Linked DNA regions of Homo sapiens. The protein of the gene in region 2 purifies or fractionates together with the protein of the main gene of each other region. This does not show direct contact. Each region holds a gene or a part of one and is shown on either strand. Other genes may lie near its edges. The genes, in order: ERLIN2, INSIG1 and SREBF2.

The links.
Region 1: the proteins of INSIG1 (region 2) and ERLIN2 purify together in Homo sapiens (affinity purification with western blotting; 4 studies listed by BioGRID and IntAct, with this or other methods). This does not show direct contact.
Region 3: the proteins of INSIG1 (region 2) and SREBF2 purify together in Homo sapiens (affinity purification with western blotting, with the first as the bait; 2 studies listed by BioGRID). This does not show direct contact.

Annotation. Positions count from the first base shown.
Region 1 is NC_000008.11:37,731,682-37,739,633, forward strand, and holds the start of ERLIN2 (erlin-2), read left to right. Parts: upstream 1-4,952; 5' UTR 4,953-4,997; exon of another isoform or gene 4,998-5,747; intron 5,748-6,226; 5' UTR 6,227-6,241; coding exon 6,242-6,348; intron 6,349-7,952. UniProt on the Homo sapiens protein: Component of the ERLIN1/ERLIN2 complex which mediates the endoplasmic reticulum-associated degradation (ERAD) of inositol 1,4,5-trisphosphate receptors (IP3Rs) such as ITPR1.
Region 2 is NC_000007.14:155,300,819-155,307,924, forward strand, and holds part of INSIG1 (insulin-induced gene 1 protein), read left to right. Parts: intron 1-747; coding exon 748-872; coding exon of another isoform or gene 873-902; intron 903-1,432; coding exon 1,433-1,599; intron 1,600-1,928; coding exon 1,929-2,028; intron 2,029-3,006; coding exon of another isoform or gene 3,007-3,077; intron 3,078-7,106. UniProt on the Homo sapiens protein: Oxysterol-binding protein that mediates feedback control of cholesterol synthesis by controlling both endoplasmic reticulum to Golgi transport of SCAP and degradation of HMGCR.
Region 3 is NC_000022.11:41,836,087-41,843,192, forward strand, and holds part of SREBF2 (sterol regulatory element-binding protein 2), read left to right. Parts: intron 1-7,106.

The DNA.
Region 1 (7,952 bases), on a different chromosome or scaffold from region 2:
GTGTAGGCTACTTTTTCAAGAAACTTTGCTCAAAGGGAAGGAGACAAATCAGGTAAGAACTAGAGGCTTACATAGGATCAACGGAGAGGCTTAGAGGGAAGGGCGTGGAGAAATTGCACAAGATTATAGGCTGTGGCTAAAGAACTGGTAGAAAGAGGAGATAATTAAAGGCTCTAGGTCCCTGAGGAAAGAGGAGGGATACGATTAAGAAACCAGGTGAAAAAAGATTGGCCTAGAGTAAACATGGGTTACCTTATCCTCTGAGACTCACATCGCCGTATACAAGGTATCTCTTATATACAGCAAAAAAGAAGTCTATCAATGACATAGAGAGATGTGTAAATACATATATGTAGATAAAATTTCATATAATCTTTTAAAAAAAATTCCTGTTACTGTAAGTTCAGAGTTGGAGGGTTAGAGATGTCAAAGGAAAGGTCATCCCAGGCAAATCAGGCCAAGCCAAAATGCAACTGCCAGGCTTGTTGGAACAAAATCTCAAGGTCACAGGCTACTCTTCTCATCACCCCTCAAATGCAGTAGGAACCTTAGCCAAGCCCCCTTTCTGAAGACTTCTTCTCCCTGGACTTCTCTACAAGTAAAATAAATGGGTTGGATTAAAATCATAGGCAATAACCTATCTGTCCATCAACAGGTGAGTGGATAAACAAATTGTTGTATAGCTACACAATGAAACACTACACAGCAATAAAAAGGAATGAACTCTTGATAGACTCAACAACATGGATGAATCTCAAAATAATTATTCTGGGTTTTCAAAAAAGCCAGACCCTCCCCCACAAAAAAGGGTACATACTATACAATTCCATGCATATAAAATTCTACAAAATGCACACTAATCTAGAGTGGCAAAAGAAGATCAGTGGTCTTTTGAGAATCGAAAAGGGGGTGTACCAAAGAGGGGTAAGAGGGAGAGATTACAAAGAGGCATGGGGAAATTTGGGGCCATGATGCATGTGTTCATTATACTGATTGTGGTAATGGCTTCACAGGTATTTGCAAGTCAAAATGTAAATTGTAGACTTTATGAACAGTTTATTACATGTCAATTATATCTCAATAAAGCTGTAAAAATGTGTAATCACAAAAGGACCTTTAGGTGCCTTCTAGCTGACTTTCAACTCAATTTTTTTCCTGATGGCTCTTTGATCTCTTTACCCAATGCCTTGAAGAAACATCATTAGCCCCAAGCAAATATGCTTTTGTTCTTGGAAGGCACCAATCCCGGTTTTTGCAACTGAAAAAAAAAGAAAAGAGGAAAAATTTCTGAGCCCCCTTAATAACTAAGGATACAGTTCACTCCTCTTCCCATAAGCTCACCAAAATCTTACTGGAATCAAATGTTCTAAAAGATTATTTCTATTCCCTGTTTTAGGGCCTAAAGTGAAAAAGATAAACTTTAAATCAAACGGAAACTTTTTCCAGCAACTTCCACTCTTGTGATACTGAACTGAACTGAAGCAGAAGATTTTAAGAGTTGCCTGAATCCTTTGGACCTGCTTATTGGCTTAAAAAGTCTAATTGTGAAATTGACTTAAAAATTCCTAATTGTGAAAGAAGGGGTCTCTTCTTTGGCATGGCACTCTCACTAACAATTTTCTTGGTAAGAGGACCCAACAAACAGCAATAGAAATAGAAAACTATGGATTGCTAGGTGAGAGTATTTTTTAACCTGCTTCAATCTACAACTGCAAAATGAACTGGCCCAATTTAATTAGAAAAATTTCAGTTTCTGACCACTGATCTACATTACTGAAAGGTTACATGTGAAATAAATGTGGGGTGTGTGTGTGTGTTTGTGTCTGAAATTGAATCATTTTCTAACTCATTCACTATAAAAAAGAAATAGACGGGATCATTTGAACTCTGCCTTTGCAATTTATCATCTTCGTGATCTTAGACAATCTCTTAATTTCTCTAAGCTTCCACTTTCTCCTCTAAAATGGAGTTGAACTCAAAGGGCTGACCTAAAGTTTACATAAAATGAGAAAATGTAAGGTACTGGGGCTGATACATAGACAGTATTCAATAAAGCTTTATGAAATCTGTATTGTAAATATCCATTGAGGTATAATTTCAGAAGCCTTTATCTCTTCTTCTGATAAGCCTTCATTTGGTTATTATTTAATACCATACAACTTAAAGTTTATCATTCTCTCGCCCTGTGTCACATTAATAATCTGCAATGATAACCCACAAACATGCAAGAATACATTAAGGGAATTTGCTATTTAAAACAGCAACAGCTAACACTTGGTGAACACTTAAAATGTACCAAATGTTGTATATGCTTTTCACAACAGTCCTATAAGTTTCATACCATTATTACTTTAATTTTATAGATGAAGAAACTGAGGCAGGGATAGATCATTTTTCCAATGTTACAGAATAAGAGGCAGGCTCCAGGATTTAAACAAGGCAGCCTGACTGTGAAGTATCTGAGCTAAATCACTACTCTATACTGTGAGGTTTTTTAAAAAATAAAATTTTAGCCGGGCGCAGTGGCTCACGCCTGTAATCCCAGCACTTTGGGAGCCCAAGGCACGTGGATCACTTGAGGTCAGGAGTTCAATACCAGCCTGACCAACGTGGTGAAACCCCATCTCTACTAAAAATACAAAAATTAGCCAGTCGTGGTGGCATGCGTCTGTAGCCCCAGCTACTCGGGAGGCTGAGGCAGGAGAATCGCTTGAAGGGAGGCAAAGGTTGCAGAGCTGAGATCGCGCCACTGCAGTCCAGCCTGGGTGACAGAGCGAGACAGGAAGGAAGGAAGGAAGGAAGGAAGGAAGGAAGGAAGGAAGGAAGGAAGGAAGGAGAAAAAGAAATTGTAAACATTTTTGTTAAACAAATCATCACAAATGTATCTGCTGGGTAACATAAAAATCACAGGTCTCTTAAGAAAGAGATTTTCAGAAGTACTAGATCATCATGTACTAGCACATCACGAAGTCCATCCCCCTGCCTTTAGGCACGTCCACAACTAAATAACTCAGGTCTGGTAAAATGACTCCTAAGAACAAAATCCCAAAACTTCTAGCCACAATTCACTCCAAAGTTTAATGTGAGGAAATTTTTGTGTTTTTATTATTTTTAATTGACACATAATAATATACATATTTGTGGGAAGGGGAGGGGAGACGGGTTGCCAGAGGTTGGTTAAAGGAAATTCTTAAATTACAAGTAATTTAAATACTTGATGCTGCAGGCTAGCCCCCATTTCATGGGTTGATGAACCCTAATATTTCCATTTTTCTTACTCAATTATTAAATAAACTATTAAATAAGCATGCCCAGCTGAGGTTATATCACTGAACAGGGAGAGAAAAAACTCAAGTTCTGATAGGATTGATCGAGAGATTGGCCAGCTGTGTCTGTTTGGGGTGGGGGATGCAGGGACAGAGTAGGGAGATGAAAGGCCTTCATTTATGGAGATGGGCACAGAGCTCCCAGACAGCACCATGTAACCCTCGTATGGGTTTCACCATGTAATGCTGAAACATCCCAACACCCAGAGCAAACGCAGGAAAGGTAAACGGGCCAATCCCAAGCAGGCATGCCTGGAAAAAACCACACTTCCCTTTTCCTGAGTCTTAAATCTGTCTAACACCACCAGCTTGCCATCTTCCCGGTGTAAAAGTTTTTCTTTTACTGAAGGCTATAATTAAGTGGACTCTTTCTCTCCTGCAAACAAAATATTAATAACCTCAGTGGCTGAATTAGAAATGCCCCAATGTGATGCTGGTGAATAGGGCAGGTGGAGGACAACGTGAGGCCCTTAGACTAGGAGACACAAACTCTGGATTCCGGGCCTGGTCCCACGTTGCCTTCAGTCTGTTTTTACTGGGCACCTAAGCCCCGGGGGTGCGGAAGGAAAGTCAGTCTCTGCTCTCCCGGGAACGTACAGTTTATCTAGAAAGACGAAGTGCACTAGCCCCTGTGCACTGTGGCAGGAGTTTAAAAAGCAGTGAACTCAAGATATTAAGGAAACACAAAGGAAACTTTCCTTGGCTTTTACCCTTGAACCTCGCTGAACTTCTTAGATTCCGTTCATTAAAATTAGAATAATAATTCCTTGTTAATATACTTTGTGGCGTTGCAGGATCCCAAGGGCCAAAGCTCCCAGAAAAATATAAAGAACAACTCAAGGTAGGGATTTTTGATTGGTGAGGTAATGATGCTAATCTGTACATTGAAAAGACTGTTTCATTTCAGCTGTGCTATAGGAAAGCAAACAGTTGCAACTCGCCAGTACCTTATCAAGGAGAGAAAAAAAAAAAGGCCGCGCATGGTGGCTCATGCCTGTAATCCCAGCAGTTTGGGAGGCCGAGGCAGGAGGATTGCTTGAAGCCAGAGTTTGAGACCAGAAATACCAAGACCCTGTCTTTACTAAAAATAAAATTGTCAAGTGTCGTGGCGTGCGCCTGTGGTCCCAGCTACTCAGCAGGGTGAGGTGGGAGGATCGCTTAAGCCCAGGAGTTCGAGGCTGTAGTGAGCTATGATCGTGCCACTGCACTCCAGCCTGGGCAAAAGAGCGAGACCTTGTCTCTAAAAAAACCAAAACGAACCAGGTTCGGCCTAATGCAGAAGGAAATCCGGAGCAATCCCCAAAGTCAACGCCTTGGAAAGGTTCGCCCTGGGTCTCAGTACTCCGGGGCATGCGCGTCCTGCCGCTCGCTCTCGGGGAGCTCCCACCAACACCGCCCTCATCCCCAGCCCCAGGACGGATACCCAAGACCGAGGTCCAGGACCGCACCGACCAAGTCGCGGGCGATCCCTGGCGGCCAGCTACGGCCATTGACCGCTGGGAGCGCGAGGGGCGGGGCGCAGAGCGAGCGCGGGGCGGGGGTGTGGTCTTCTCGCGTGAATTGATGGCGTCATCGAAGCGACGGCCCGGAAGGAAGTCGCGTGCTGAGGGGTGTGACGGTTTTCTTGCTCGTGGGCTCGGACGAGTACGGAGCGCCTGCAGGGACAGCCTGGTACGCGGCCCCCGCCCCTTCGTGCGCGCGCTGGGCCTAGCTGCCGCTCAGGGTCGGGGCTGACCCGTCACTTTCGGGAACCTCAGTCCCAGCAGCTTCTCTCCCTCAGCCGGCCCGCTCCTGGAGAGAGACAGAAACCCTTTTCTGTCGCGTCCTCTCCTTGCGAGCCGCAGGGGGACCGAGCGGAGGCTATTGGAGCCGCAGCCCCAGACCAGGGCGCTTGACCCTCTCTCGGAACGGGGCGGGGAAGGGGCGCGAGTGACCTCGGGGAGGGAAGGGCACTGGCAGGAAAGGACGCAACTGCAGATCGGTAGCCGGAGGCCGCCACGGTAAAATAAGCGCCTCGCAGATGTCCGCGCCCCGGTTACGTTAGACCTGGGAGGCAGAATCCACGCCCTGCGCTCACGGGCCCACGCACGCACAGCTGAACTTTGCAGTCAGTCACCATAGTTCCAGATCATTCAGCGTTCAGGATCCCACTCCTCCGCGTCCTGGTGCCTGAACGCGGTTGGACCTAGGAGCCTAGAGGCTCGCAGTTTGGGACATTGCCTTTCTCTCTGACCACGGGCTTGGGGATCTGTCAGGTGCAAAGTGCCAAAGTATATGGGGGGGAGTGTGGCTTCAGGCTTGTTCAGAGCCCTGTCCTGTTTAGGGCCAAAGGAATAACTGGGAAGGTGGATGCGAGGCCAACGAATCCTACCTTGAAACTCTGCTCGCCTGCTGGCTCTGCCACTCCAGCATCTGAAAGGAGTAAATAATGGTTTCCTTTGAAACTGCAGGCAATTAGGAGTGGGAGACTCTGACCAGAATTACATAGCCACAACTGCCTGTCATTTGGCATCCTCTGTAATTTGGGCCAAAGTACTGCAGCTGCCTCTCTTCCCTACTACTGGTAGGAAAGGTTCAGTGACAGCACATTCGTGTTCACAGGAAGACAAGGCTGTGTTCTGAACCCTACCCAGCTGGCACGGGTTCTCCCTTGAGCAACGGCTGTATCCGGAGCCAGTGCTTCCTCAGTGCGGTGGGGGCTCTAATTTTACAGTTAAAGAAAGGGGAACGTTGACTGAGAACGAGGAGGAAGCGAGTTGTAGATCTAGCCTTGTGTTCACACGACACCAGGCTGGATATGAGTCACTCGCAGGGAGCTCAGCTTGGTGAGGTCCTCTCGCTGTTGTGGCCTTTTCTCCTGCACGTTGGACCACACACATTTTCCCGTGTCTTTTCCCTAGGATAAAGGCTCACTGATGGCTCAGTTGGGAGCAGTTGTGGCTGTGGCTTCCAGTTTCTTTTGTGCATCTCTCTTCTCAGCTGTGCACAAGATAGAAGAGGGACATATTGGGGTATATTACAGGTAAGGCAGAGACAGGGAGAAGCCGGCAACTTCCTGTTAAATAGCTCCCTTTCCTGGTCATTGCTTTCCTAGCAGATTCTGCTGAACATCTCTATTTATATTTCCTTGAATAGGGGAGCCTTTTCAGATGGAGCTTTTTATGTCAGTAACCACGGGAAAGAGAATACACACACACACATATATATGTAAATTTAGAACTTCACTTAGTAGTCCAAGATGATGCCATGGGTGGTGATTAATAAATGTGTATATAGATTTAGAGACAAAATCTAAAGGAAACTGGTGCTCCTCATTGATCATCCCTAAAATACTGTTTTCTCCTACATTCCTCTGGCAGTCTTAGCTCTACATCCCTCTGGCAGTCTTAGCTCTACATCCCTCTGGCAGTCTTAGCTCTACACTGCTAGGTTACCTTTACAAAAGCCAGCTGAGTACCAGTTCTTGATGGCAACTTGAGAAGGTAGCCTACTCTGCTAATTTGGGATGCTCTTTTAAAATTAACATTTCAGCCAGCCTGGGTCACATAGTGAGACCCTATCTCTAAAAAAATAAAATAAAAAATAAAATTTTAATTGGCCGGCTGTGGTGTCACACACACGTAGTCCTAGCTACTCAGGAGGCTTAGATGGGAGGATCACCTGAGCCCAGGAGATTGAGACCAGCCTGAGCAACATAGTGAGAGCCCATCTCTACAAAAAGTAAAAAATTAGCCGAGCATGGCAGCACGTGCCTGTAATCCCAGTTATTTGGGGGGCTGAGGTGGGAGGATCACTTGAGCCCAGAAGTTTGAGGCTGCAGTGAGCTATGATCACACCACTGCACTCCAGCCTGGGTGACAGAGCAAGACCCTGTCTCTAAAAATAAAATAATATTAACATTTCAAGAAAAATGAAAGAGCCTGCAGGTTGACTTACGTCAATCAAAGCAAGCCTTAGGATAGTGGTTCCTACAATAAAGGAACCCATTATGTCACTGTTTATTTTATTGGTTTTTTTTTTAATTCTTTGCCTAATATAAAGCAAAGAAGCACTTATAAGTCTTGGGTTGCTTTCTTTTTAGTAACCTCCATGACCAAGTGTTTTGCTTTATGTCTTTATGAACTCTTCTTATATGTGCTGTTGTGATGCTTGTTTCTGGATTGCTAACAGCAAGTTCTAAAACTCTGATTGGAATTCCTCTCTCCTTTAATTCTTTCTCCCCATCATCTGCTTACATGTTCCCCAAAAAGGCTTTTAACTTCATCATTTACATATAACTTGATTAGAAAGGTAACTCTATTGCCAAAACATATATTTCAATTATTTATAAAGTACTTCAAATTATTCTTTTGGTTGGTCATGTCATTGGACTCCAGCATTAGTGCAGGTAGTTGATAACCATATTACTGGACTTAACTGCCCTAATGGATTGCCACAAGCCCAACAGATATGACAAAGTAAAACAGACTTCTTATCTTTTTTTTTTTTGAGACAGTCTCGCTGTGTTGCCCAGGCTGGAGTGCAGTGGTGAGATCTTGGTTCACTGCAACCTCCGCCTCCCAGGTTCAAGCAATTCTCTGCCTCAGCCTCCTAAGTAGCTGGGATTACAGGTGCCTGCCACCACGC
Region 2 (7,106 bases):
GGGCAAGCTGGGATTTGAGGCTGAGTTTTCTCTTCTTGGTCTGGTGTTCTTTCCGCAGCTTGAGGCTTGACCATGCGGGAACCAGATGGAGAATAAGCGAAGCCTGTGTGGGGCTGTCTCGCCCCGTACTTGCCCATGTGCATGTGTGCACAGTAGGTGCTCAGTGCCTCGTACAGAACATGCTAGAACCCCCGAAAATCAACTCCAGGGCCACTCTAGGAGCATGTGACCCAGACTGTCAAAGTCACATCAGCAAATATGTATCTCATCACGTGCCCAGCCCCAGTACTGGGTGGTGGCAGGAGTGTCAGAGCTGTGATGTGACAGGGTGTGGACAGATGCTAACCTTTTTATTGTAAGATAGAAATCACACCGGATGAAAAGACAAGGTGAACTACATAGTCATTTAAGTTCTGTGTGCTTTAGGCAAATGTGGATATTAAATATAAGGTTACATATTGCTCATATTAATATGAATAATCCCTGCTTGATTCCTTCCTGTGTTTACTGAGACATGTTCAACTACACTAAATAATAGTGATTTTTAAAAAACTTTTCCAAACAGTACAATTTTGTGGGAGTGGTACTCAAAGAGAACAAGAATATAAAATCACTCTGAAGTTATAGCTGATAATTTTTTCTAGGAAAAGGACTGGTTTGAGTAATGTACTGTGTTACTAATGACCACGTTGAAATTCTGGAACTTGAATCTGCTGTATTCTAACATTGTCAACTTTTTTAAAACAGCTGTTGTTGGCCTACTGTACCCCTGTATCGACAGTCACCTCGGAGAACCCCACAAATTTAAGAGAGAATGGGCCAGTGTCATGCGCTGCATAGCAGTTTTTGTTGGCATTAACCACGCCAGTGCTGTATCCTTAATTTTCTGTGCTACGTCCAGAGTATCTTCTTAGGTTATATATTGAAGCGTTTTGTTTTGTTATATACTCAAATGACTCCATGTCATAATACAGACATGATGGTGGTACCTACCCATTTCAGATTACTAAAAAGAGAAAGAAGAATGGGGCTATCGATGACTTCATAGTAAAATATATTGTTTTATGGTCAAAATAAATATATATTTATTTATATTTTTATATATATTATATATATTTTTAAATATATATAATATATATAATAAATATATATTTATATAAATATATATAAGCACTTTATATATAGCTTTCAGCAAGTTTATTCTTATGGTTAAGTTTTTGACTCAGTGATGGCAGGGAGATTTCAGGTGATCTTAATGATTACTGTAACCTGTATCCAACAAATCCTTTCTTTAGCTTATTACACAGTTTTTATGGACAGTGAATTATCTGTGGTACAATAATAAAATACCCATGTTTTTAACCCTTGTGGTTTTACGTTTTTTTATCTTAATAAGAGTCAGCAAACTTTTCCTTAACTTTTATATCACCAGAAATTGGATTTTGCCAATAATGTCCAGCTGTCCTTGACTTTAGCAGCCCTATCTTTGGGCCTTTGGTGGACATTTGATCGTTCCAGAAGTGGCCTTGGGCTGGGGATCACCATAGCTTTTCTAGCTACGCTGATCACGCAGTTTCTCGTGTATAATGGTGTCTATCAGTAAGTGTGTGTTTTCAAATATTGGCTTTGGAAAGCTTACTTAACTTTCATTAAAACATCCACTAAGCTTAGATATTTTCATATTTTATTTGTTTTTTATATAGAATGATACAGATTTAGGCATGAAATTCTCAAAAATGCTGCTATCCATAACTTAATGTAACGCAAAGGAAAACCAAGTAGTAGCAGTTACAACCAAACAAATATGAACATTCGTAACATTGGATGGTTGATATGCGTTCTGCATATCCCCACTACAGAGAATCTGTGATGTAGAATTGAGCCAGGTGAAATTGACTGCTAAGGTACAGTTTCTTTTCTCGCTCCAGGTATACATCCCCAGATTTCCTCTATATTCGTTCTTGGCTCCCTTGTATATTTTTCTCAGGAGGCGTCACGGTGGGGAACATAGGACGACAGTTAGCTATGGTAAGTGAAATGATCATATTATCTTCTAAAACTTGCGTCTCTTTACCTTGATAGAATGACTTTACATGATACATTCAAATTTGCGTTCATATATTCTGGTTCAGACTTGAGTGACAACTACTGAGAAAAGCTTATATTTAAAAAAATAGGTAATGATACCCAGGTAATTCTTTGCTAAATTATAAAAATTCATAATATTTGATCTAGAAAAGGAACTAGAGCCCTCGCACTGCCCCTTTGAATTGCAGATGTGGTCAGTGTTCTGAATTCTTGAAATTTCTGTAGTAAGCAGTAGAGAAAGTGACTGGTGTGTGAGTGTCCCCTCCTCCTTCACCATCGGAAGCAGATCTGGATGACCTCATGCAGTGATACTTTGCTCCCTGAGCATCAGTCCACCAGTGTTTCTTTTCACAAAATCAGAGTGGATGCAGATGATGCTGGCCTCTTAGTCCACAGTCAAGCAAATCGAGCCTGAGGCTGCAGAGTCTGTCTCGGGCCAGGGCAGGGACTAATGTGGGTGGGCAAGGGGACAGCCTGGTTCAGGCAGGCAGCACCTTTCTGTGGGGCAGGTGGCCCTGGGCATGGAGAAGTGGTGATGAGAGCACCGCTGCACGTGGCCGGGTCACCATGTAGACGGACTGTCCTGCCTGAACATTGCATCTGTTCTCAGCTGCAGGAGAAAGCAGTGCTACCCCGCAGAGCTTCTCTCACAGCCCCCCTGAGGGAGACGGAAAGGTAGTGAACTCCAGGATGGCTTTAGCAGTTCTCATTAGTTAAAAATTGACATCTTAGCACTTCAATTTAAAAACATAGAGGTGGACTTTTAAATGTTATTTTGAGTTGACTTTGGCAGGCTGAAAGAAAGTAAATTAAAAAAAACAACAAAAACCTAGAGCTGTTGCTCTCGGAGATAAGCTCTGGGAAAACTTATCTTAGTACCTCATGCTATTTTTAAAACAGTACATTTATTTTTGCCAGCTGATACCCTTCTGTGAGGAGTTGAATTTGAAGACCACTTGGCTGTTTCACAAAACCAGAAGTAATTACAGGTAGAATTTGCAGTCTTCCACTGGTTACTGACTCTCTGCTGCCAAATTTCTCATGATGGAGAAGAAAGGACTTTGCTTGCCTTTTTTTTTTTTTTTTTTTTTTGAGACAGAGCTCTGGAGTGCAGTGGTGCCATCATAGCTCACTGTAACCTTGAGCTCCCGGACTCAAGCAATCCTCCCGCTTCAGCGTCCCGAGTAGCTGGGATTACAGGCACATGCCACCATACCCGGCTAACTTTTTTGCTTTTTGTGGAGATGTTATCTCCCTGCCTTGTCCAGGCCGGGCTCGAACTCGTGGGCTCAAGCCATCCTCCCACCTTGGCCTCCCAAAGCACTGGGATTATAGGCGTGAGCCTGGCCTTGCTTTTTTTAATATTAAAAATCTGGTCGGATGGTCCCACATGGAAATAGTATGTTGTTTTCATGCATTCGCCATCATCCCCGTTAATAGTCTTCAAAGGAGAGCTGGCAACTCCATCATTGCTTTCTTGCTTTGAGATTTTTGTTTCGGTACTCTTTGGGAGAGAATTCCTAAGAAGGTTTTTAGAATAAAATTGTCCTCAACCAGATTGACTAATTACACATTATAACTACAACTTGAATAACATTTAAAGAGTTGGTTATTTCTGTTTGATAGGTTGGTGCTGTTATATGTCAAGGCTTTTTAAATCGGTTTTAAGAAATAAGCATTATTTTGGTGGAGGTAGAAATTTCACAACATTCATAAGTTCTAAACATCTAGAAATGGTTGGAGGAAACATTTTCGTTTTGAAGATAGTTTCATTAAGTAATCCCTGCTGTGCTCCTTTGCTTACAGAAAAAAATGTTAAAGATAACTCAAAATAGGATAGTTGGTGTAATTATAATTCTCCTTACTTCAGCTTTCTCTTCATCCTTTTTATTCTTTAAGCTTGGGGGAAAATGTTTGGATGTTCTCGTATCTTAAAACTGGAGGAGAGAGGCTGGGCGCGGTGGCTCACGCCTTTAATCCCAGCACTTTGGGAGGCTGAGGCGGGCGGATCACGAGGTCAGGAGATCGAGACCATCCTGGCTAACACAGTGAAACCCCGTCTGTACTAAAAATACAAAAAAAAAAAAAAAATAGCCAGGCGTGGTGGTGGGCACCTGTAGTCCCAGCTGCTTGGGATGCTGAGGCAGGAGAATGGCGTGAACCCGGGAGGCAGAGCTTGCAATGAGCCGAGATTGTGCCACTGCATTCCAGCCTGGGTGACAGAGCAAGACTCTGTCTCAAAAAAAAAAAAAAAAACTGGAGAAGAGAGATCACCACCTTAATCCCCTTCCCTGCTGGGCTATCACATGAAACTGACCTCTGAGGTTCTAAGCCTAACCCGCCTACCACTGTTTTTATTCATAAATACTTAAATCCTTACCTCTGGATCCCAACTGTTACTCTTTTTTTCACTTCAAAATTTGCAAACTCATTTCTATCCATCAAACCCCGGAAATGGCCCAGGGGCTTCACAGTGCAGTCCCCTCCCTCCTGCTGCATCCGTTCCTCAGGCTGTGCCCCAGGTTGCATTCGTGGTGCGTGTTTTCTCCCAGGGCAGCCTTCCCCACATTCCACTCTTGTCATACTGTTGACTCACAAAATGGAAGTGGCTGAATGTTCCAGGGATAGTGTCTAAGAGCTATTGGTTTAAGGTTGAAACCTACACCAAGTAAGGCTTTGTGAAGGGAGATGACGAGAGTGAAGTTGTTGACAGTCTGAAGGTGAAGAGATTCCGAGGCTCAGTTCAGCACCGGGACCAGACCCGCCCAGATCCAGGGTAATTTGAGGTCTGTGTTTGGTGCTGATGGTTTTGCCCAGTGCACTCCACACCCTCTCCTTCTTAGCTGTCTCAGTTCTCTTCAGATGCCTTTGTTCTAACTTATGCTTCCCTCCCTTAAGAAGAAACATAGTTACTTGCAAGAATAACCATGCTCAAAAGTTACAAGTTGGCTTTGCTTCAAGTTATATGGTCTCCTAGCTTTTTCTATGTGGTATTTCCCCCCACACATGCCGTTGTCCTTTGTGTCCGAAAATACAGCAGAAACATTTGTTATCAGCCTGTTACGGTTTTTTTGTTTGCTTTTTGTTTGTTTTTATTTTTACTTTTTTTGAGACGGAGTCTTGCTTTGTCACCCAGACTAAAGTGCAGTGGCACAATCTTGGCTCACTGCATTTGAACCGTCTCCCAGGTTCAAATGATTATCCTGCCTCAGCCTCCCAAGTAGCTGGGATCACAGGCGCCCACCACCGCACCTGGCTAATTTTTCTGTTTTTAGTAGAGACGGGGTTTCGCCACGTTGGCCAGGCTGGTCTCGAACTCCTGACCTCAGGTGATCCACCTGCCTCTGCCTCCCAAAGTGCTGGGATTACAGGCATGAGCCACCGCGCCCGGCCCAGCCTGTATGTTTAAAAGAAAATGAGTCTGTAACCATCATTTATAGAACTTGTAGTTGTTGCTGTTTGTAGCTTCAAGTCCTTTCTCAAGAGTAAGCTGCAAACTGCCAACAGCAATCAAGCCTGTCCTGCTGCCACTGCCCGGCCCCACTGGGCCACCTGGAGGCAGAGTCCCGCCCACCTCAGTGTCAGCTTGGGATTTGATTTGCCGTTCCTGTTTTTGATTGACCCAATTCAGCTGCTAATGATAATAATACTATTATTGTTATTGAGGGTTTACATTTGTTGGGCTCTTACTGCTGCACAGGAGGCATTGTGCTGAGCGTTTCCATTGTTAGCCAGTTTAGTCCTCATAACACAAGTCTTTGAAGTAGAAACTATTATTAGCCCATTTTTAAAAGGGGAAATTGCAGCTTAGGAAGATTAAACAACTTGGCCAAGTGGGTGGCAGAGGTCGACGTGGCACCGTGCTTCTCATTAGCATACCACACTGCCCTTTCAACACATAGCTCGCACCTGCCTTCACCCTGGAAGCAGGTTTACAGCAGCCTGTGTTGGTGTCTGGGTTGCCATTTACAATGTGCCACCATTAGGCAACACTGCTGGAAGTCCCTGTGCCACGTGTCAGGTCCGCCCGGGCTGGCTGTCGTTCGTCTCTGGCGTCTTTGCCAGGCCTCACTGTGGCCTCTGTCGACCAGGGATTCTAAAAGTCCACTTCCCATTTATTTATCAGCACATTAGTGAACAGGGAGTCAAATGTGATGACCAGTTTTCTTTCCAGGTTGCTGCCAAGAGTTTGCTCTTTTGTTTTCTCACCGCAGTTTGTATAGAACCCTCCCAGTGTTCATATCTAAAAATTGGCAGTGCTTTCACATGATCAATTCCTAAAAGCATGTATGTTTCCTAGAAGGTCTTATTGTGTGTGTCCCCAGGGTAGTAACTGGCATACCTGGGTGACTCAACCCAGACTCATGACTTTCTTACCTGTCTGTTCAGATGAGAGGCTCTTGCTGTTTTCTGGATGAGTAATCTCCGTCATTGCTGAAGGTGAGGAGCTCAGCTCCTTCCTCTTAAAGTGAGTGGAGGGCAATTAAGTAACGTGGGAAGTCACGATTCTGAGGGAAAAAAATTCTGTATGGAGGTTTCTCTTTTGCCCTTTAGCAGAAGCTCCGTGGCCTCAGGAAGGTCATTTAATCTCTCTGGCTTTGCTTCTTCATCAGTGAAATACTGTTCTCCATTAAGAATTTACCCTGAGGTGCCTGGTCATAGTAGTAACTGTAGTGTCTACCTCTCAGAAGCTCTGTGAGGGTCAGATGAGGAAGAACATGTAGAAAGGATTTCCCAACTGTGAAGCTCTGTGTGAATTGAGGGCACACAGAGCTTCAGTATTACAAAGCATGACCTATTTCCAATGTCTGTTTCAACAAACTGCTGGTAAGGTGGGTTATAACACAGGCATCAGATACTAATAAAGGTTTGTGGCAGAAACCTCCCTTCAGATAAAGGTTCAATCCCTTAAATTGCAGTTAGAACTTTCAGGAACCTATCATACCCTAAGCATCACCATGCTTTGATAAAATTGGGTGTTTCCTTTATATAGATATTAATTTAGTTAAACTTTCACC
Region 3 (7,106 bases), on a different chromosome or scaffold from region 2:
TTTCTCTGTCCTTCCAGAAGACCTGGTTTATAACAGTGCATAAGGCTTTTTCTCAAAATAGTTATATACCGCACAAGGAAGAGGTGTGGCTGTTGTGTCACAGGAGACCTAGGGGCCAGGTTTGGGAAAAGTGGTTCCATGTCTTCAGTTGATCAACAAGTATTCAAGTGCTGGCTGTGGTTTCTGAGCTGTAAGGAATCGTGAAAGATAGCATAGAATTTTATGGCTTCATGGAGCTTGAGATGAGAAACTCTAGTGCCAGTATGGAACAGCTTAAAATTGCACAGCACAACAAGTAAAAGTCAGCAGTGAGGGTAGCTTGGTAAAGGCTGGCTTAGCAGGAAGACCACACCAAAGAGGTGGCTCTTGACCTGGGCCTTGGAGGACAAAAAGAGTTGGGCATGCTGAAGGTCAGTGGTCTGAAGATAAAATTATCCCTTGATTCTCACCCCTGTGTTCCCATTACTGAATGTTAGCTCCTTGAGGCAGAGACCTTCGTTTCATTCCCACTAAATTCTTTGAACCTAGAACAGTGCCTGGCACAGTGAGAGTGCCCATTAAATATTTGTGGAATGCCTGAGTGATCCAGTGATCTTGGGCTGGGCAGGATACTAATTGTCTTGGACATGGTTTGGAGTTGGATTAGATCAAGGAAATAGCCAGCCTGGATGCTTCTAGGAGCCGGTCAGGTGAGGAAGGGGAGAGGCAGGCAGGGTGAGTACATTTACTTCCTTTGTATGTGTATGGTGGGGATAAGGGGTGGATGCAACCTAGAGAGCCTCCAGGAGGTGCAGGCAGGCAAGGATCCATTCATTCCACAATGTCTGCTGTGTTCCAGTCCATTGGTACCCTTCAAGGATATGGGCTCAGGGAGGCCACATTCATTTACTCATTGAATGGCTTCTAAGTATTCATGATGGACAAAGGATAACTTGAGCGCGACAGATCATGTGTCTTCTCTCTCACGAAGCTTACATTCTTGATGGAGGAAATACAAGTTGAGTAAAATAAATGAACAGTTTAGGCAGGGCACTGTGAGCAAAATAAAATTGGGCCATATTATAGAGTGTGACTGGGCTAGCCTACTTAGATTCGGAAGTCCAGGGAGGCTTCTTGGAAGAGAGGTATCAGTGTCTGTTTTTCAAGAGATGCCGAAGTCTGGATTTTTATTTGAAATACCCAGATTTTTGGCCGGGCACAGTGGCTCATGCCTGTAATCCCAGCACTTTGGGAGGCCGAGGTGGGCGGATCACCTGAGGTCAGGAGTTCAAGACCAGCCTAGCCAATATGGTGAAACCCCATCTCTACTAAAAATACAAAAATTAGCCGGGCATGGTGGTACACGCCTATAGTCCCAGCAACCCAGGAGGCAGAGACAGGAGAATCACTTGAACCTGGGAGGCAGAGGTTGCAGTAAGCTGAGATCATGCCACTGCACTCCAGCCTAGGCAACAGAATGAGACTCTGTCTAAAAAAAAAAAAAAAAAAAATGCTGGACACGGTGGCTCACACCTATAATCCCAGCACTTTGGGAGGCCGAGGCGGGTGGATCACCTGAGGTTGGGAGTTTGAGACCAGCCTGACCAACATGGAGAAACCCCGTCTCTACTAAAAATACAAAATTAGCCGGGCGTCGTGGCACATGCCTGTAATCCCAGCTACTCAGGAGGCTAAGGCAGGAGAATTGCTTGAACCCGGGAGGCAGAGGTTGCAGTGAGCCGAGATCGCGCCATTGCACTCCAGCCTGGGCAACAAGAGCAAGACTCTGTCTCAAAAAAAAAAAAAAAAAGAAAGAAAGAAAGAAATACCCAGATTTTTATATGTTGGCTCATTTAAAAAAAAAGTACTATAGGCACCCAATAAAGCATGTGTGCTAGTTGATCTCTGGGGTCTTGTACTACTGCAGAACGTCCTGTTGTCCCAGGCCCCCAGGTTTCCCATAATAGAGTAAGTCTACCATTTCATTTTGTGTTATATATCTCTATTTTGAGAAAGGGCCTCATGTGCCATTACACACCAGGTCTTCTGGAAGGGCAGCAAGGTGGGATCCTCTTCCACTGGGATCAGGAAAGAAACAGTCATGGAGGTGACCTTTTTGCTGGGTCCAAATAGATGGGTGGCAGGAGCAGCCTGACAAGTATGTGGGAGGAGTTAGAACAAGCTGCCTTTGGAAATGAAAGTTTACTAGAGATTTCTTGGAATATAGTGTGTGTGAGGAAACAGTAGAAGATGAGGTCTGAGAGGTGAGGTGGAGCTAAATTGTACTGTAGATGCAAGGTGTTTTATGGAAGATAGGGAATTGTTGAAGATTTTCAAGTAGGGGGTGACATATTAATCATGGGTTTTTAAGAAAATTGAATTGTGGGCTGGGCTCAGTGGCTCATGCCTGTAATCCTAGCATTTTGGTAGGCCGAGGAGGGTGGATCACCCGAGGTCAGGAGTTCGAGACCAGCTTGGCCAACATGGTGAAACCCCATTTCTACTAAAGATGCAAAAATTAGCCGGGCATGATGGTGGGCACCTGTAACCCCAGCTACCTGGGAAGCTGAGGCAGGAGAATCGCTTGAACCTGGGAGGCGGAGGTTGCAGTGAACCCAGATTGTGCCACTGTACTCCAGCCTAGGTGACAGAGCAAGACCTTGTCTCAAAAAAATAAAAGAGAAAGAAAAGAAAATTGAACGGTGGTGATAGGCAAGGAAGATTGGAGGCAGGGAGGCCAATTAGGAAACTGTAGCCATCCAGGTGTGAGGTGATGAAGGGTGACAAATTTGGATGGGAAGTGGCCCTCATTCAAATACCTTTCCATGGCACTGACTTGGGCCTCTGCTTGCTTCTCCCTGCAGAAACCCAGTTTGACAGAGTACCCTGCAGTACCTGGCACTGACTAGGTGTTCTGTAAAGGTGTGTCTGATGAGGAAAGGAAAGCACCTCAAGTTCAGTCTGAGTGTTCACACCATTGGGAAGGTTGGAGTGGCCAACTGGGTGAGCAAGGAGTGAGTGTTGGGGATGTGACAGGACATGTCCTCACTGAAGGCTTGTCCCTGAAGGCAGAGCAGAGGGAGAATTCTAAGATCCCATTAAGACTTTGAGCCTGGAGCACTGGGGGAGTTAGGAGTCAGCAGAAAGAGCTGGTTAGGGGAAATGATGAAAATTTATCTTAATTGTGCTGAAATTGGGGTGCCTGGGGGTCATCCATTAGGAAATGAGATGTAGATACTTAGGAGAAGGTAAAACTGGGATGGAGATTGAAGAGAGTCACTGCTGAGTCAAGAGGAGAGAACTGGGAGATTAGAGGTTAGGAAAGTGTTAGCTTTTCAAGGAGTAGTCTGTAGATGGTGGAGACAATGCCACAGAGAACAACAAGGATGACAAGGCCATGCAAGGAGTCGTGGGACTTGGTATTAGGAGGCCAAACCTTGCCAGAACAGTCAGATGAGGGAATCCAAGGCAGAAAGGAAGCAGGGGTGAGTGGGAGATGGGCAGGTGGAAGCAAGTAGTTCTCTTTGGAGAAAGTAGAATAATTTTTTCAATGAGCTGATCTACTTTCTGTCTTGATGAGTTTGCCTGTTCTGGACAACTCATAAATGGAATCAGACAGGTAGCATAATATTGCTTAGGTTCATCATGTTGCAGTGTAGTGTTCCATTGCATGGACACACCGCATTCTGTTTTATCTACTCTTCAGTTGGTGGACATTTGGGCCGTTTCCACTCTGGCTACATTATGAATGAAGCTGCTACAAACTTGTGTACAAGTTGCTGTGTGGACATATATGTTCATTTCTCTTGGGTAGATCTTCTACATTTTTTGTTGTTTATGTTTTCCAAGAGCTTATAATAAATAGTCCCATTTATTCACATGCTTAGTTTCTTTTTTTTTTTTTTTTTTTTTGAGACGGAGTCTCACTCTGTCGCCCAGGCTGAAGTGCAGTGGCGCGGTCTCAGCTCACTGCAGCCTCTGCCTCCTGGGTTCAGGCAGTTCTCTGCCTCAGCCTCCCAAGTAGCTGGGATTATAGGCACCCACCTCCACACCCAGCTAATTTTTTGTATTTTTAGTAGAGACGGGGTTTCACCATCTTGGCCAGGCTGGTCTTGAACTCCTGTCCTTGTGATCCACCCGACTCGGTCTCCCAAAGTGCTGGGATTACAGACGTGAGCCACCGCGCCCGGCCCACATGCTTAGTTTCTATGTTCCTGTAACTAATTTGCCCTAAATCTTGTGACAGAAACTTGCAATGTGGTGGTCAGTTCCTTTCTTTCCTGTCCCATCTGATGGCTATGGTTTAGGTCTGCTCTCCCTTCACTTATCTTGGGACAACCCCTAACCATCACCCTTGGGGGCAATGTTGAAGCTCTTCTTTCCCAGTTCTTGATTTTTACTCACTTATTTTAGTGGAGCACATCCTCCAGTGGCTTCCTGAGAAAGAGTACATTTAGGTAACTCTTCGAGGCCTTGCCTGTCTAAAAACATCTTTCTACCAACCTCATTCCACTTTGGTAGTTTGGCTGAGTTTAGAATTTTAGGTTGGACAGAGTTTTATGTCAGAATTTTGAAGGCATTGTCTGATTATCTTCTTGCTTCTAGTAGAGAAATCTGATGCCATTTCCATTCTTGATCCTTTGTGTGACCTGTTTTCTTCTCTGGAAGCTTTTGGGATCCTGTCTTTATGTTCTGAATTCCATGACAACGTGCCTTGATGTGACTGGGCCGACAGTCACTGTCCCAACTTGTTGGGGCTCTGGAGAGCTGTGTCTGATACCTGAATTCATGCAGTCCCCCTGCCATCAGCCTCCTTGTCACCTGAGCCTGCAGAGGAACTTCCAGTACCTGAGCCTTTCCATGGCACTGATTTGGGCCTCTGCTTGCTTCTCTCTGCAGACACCCAGTTTCATCTTTGGCAGAGTATCCTGCATGCAGTACCTGGCACTGAATAGGCACTCTGTAAAGGTGTGTCTAATGAGGGAAGGAAAGCACCTCAAGTTCAGTCTGGGTGTTCACACCATTGGGAAAGTTGGAGTGGCCAACTGGCTGAGCTAGGAGTGAGTGTTGGGGATGGTTGTGGTCAGCACACCCCTAGGAGGTGGAGGTGGGAGAAGAGTGGAAACTGACTTCACATTTCTCCAGGGAGGGATGCTTTGGAAAAACTGCTCAGTGAGATGAAGCACAGATCTGCTTTTCATCCCTTTTGTACCTTTTTAAAGACATAAGGTATGTTTTGACACTGGAGTATATATGAGGGTTGCTAACGTTTGGGTTGAAAGAGCTGCTGTTGTCCACAGCTTATTTATTTTCCACCCATTTTTGTCTCCTGGTCTCATCCAGTTACATTTCCTGGGATATGTTTTTGGAGGTTGCTCAGATCACGGCACTAGAGTCCCTTTGGGTTTCTCCTCCCTCCTCTGTCTATTTGGCCTCGCCCTTGACAAACATTCCCCACATTCACACCCAGGCCTTTGGCCTAATGTTCTTGAATGCTGCTTGCCTCTCATTGAATAGGCTTTTATGTAGCTCTCATATTCAGTTCATATTTTGGCATTTTAAAAAATATATATTTTTGCTTCTTTCTCAACTAGATCATTTCACTCCTCAAATTTGTAATTAAAAAAAGGAAATTCTCAAGCAGTTTTATTCAATTAGAACTTTGCAAATATCAAATTGTCCGTATCCTTCTGGATTCTCGTCTGAACATTGCTTATCTGCGTACATATCACAGTGTTTTCACATAGGGATTGCTGTATGTTGAAGTAGTTGAGGTGTAATAGCCATATAATCTAATGTGATCCATCTGAATAGGCAAACCCTTGCACACCTGTGTACCTGTTGAACATTTTCATCATTTGCAGTTTTTTCTTAACATAAGCACTGTTCTGAATACTTGTGAACAAGTCACTTGGGAGTTTGTTCATGGGCGTGTATCTTCCAAAGAGGAGTCTTCAAGTTCAGCTGGGTAACACACTATCAGCTGTAGCCCTTTCATTTTAAAAACATTTCCAGTGCTGCAAATTACTATGGTGATTGGGAATTACAACTTGGAAATATTTTTATTTTTTTAAAAGATAGTACATTCATATGAATCAAAATAAAATACATAAAAAGGTACTATGAAAAGTCTTGCTCCCGGCCCTACCCACTATCTGCGTAGTCCCACCGCTCCCTCACAAGTAATTAAATTTTTAGTTTCTTTTACCTGCTTCAAAATGTATTTGTTATTACAAAAGAAGCTAATAACAAATATTGATTTTAGTTTTTGCTTTGCTTTCCTTTTTGACTGAAAAAGTTAGCATGCTATAAGCCCTGTTCTTCTGTGCCTTGCCTTTTCCTTTCTGCTTACCAATGTATCTTATAGATCATCCCAGACTTTTTCACTGCTGCATGGTTTTCCATTTGATGATGCCCTGTAATTTATTCATCCAGTCCTTTTTTGATGGACATCTGAAGGTATTTTCAGTCTTCTGCTATTAAAAACAATGCTGCGAATAGCTTTGTAAATTCTTCCTTTCACACATGTGCAAGTCTAGAGGCAGGAGCGGTTACCAGAAGTGGGATTGTTGGATCAAAGCCAGGGTGGTGCTGTCTCCGACATAGTTGTCGCAAGAATCCAGTTAGGTAAAACATAAGAGGGGCTGGTCACAGTGGCTCATGCCTATAATCCCAGCACTTGGGGAGGCCGAGCCGGGTGAATCATGGGGTCAGGAGATCAAGACCATCCTGGCTAACATGGTGAAACCCTGTCTCGACTAAAAAATACAAAAAATTAGCCGGGCGTGGTGGCATGAGCCTGTAATCCCAGCTACGTGGGAGGCTGAGGCAGGAGAATCGCTTGAATCCAGGAGGTGGAGGTTGCAGTGAGCTGAAATCGCACCACTGTATTCTAGCTGGGACACCAGAGCGAGACGTCCGTCTCAAAAAAAAAAAAAAGATTATAATGGAGCTATTGCCATACCATCTAGGTGTGTGTAAGTATACTCTGTGATGTTTGCACAATGAAGCAGTTGCCTAATGACACATTTCTCAGAATGAATCCTGTTGTCAAGTGACACATGACTTTATTTGATAATGAATACAAGACCATTTCATCTTGATCCCAGATAGATACATTGAGATGC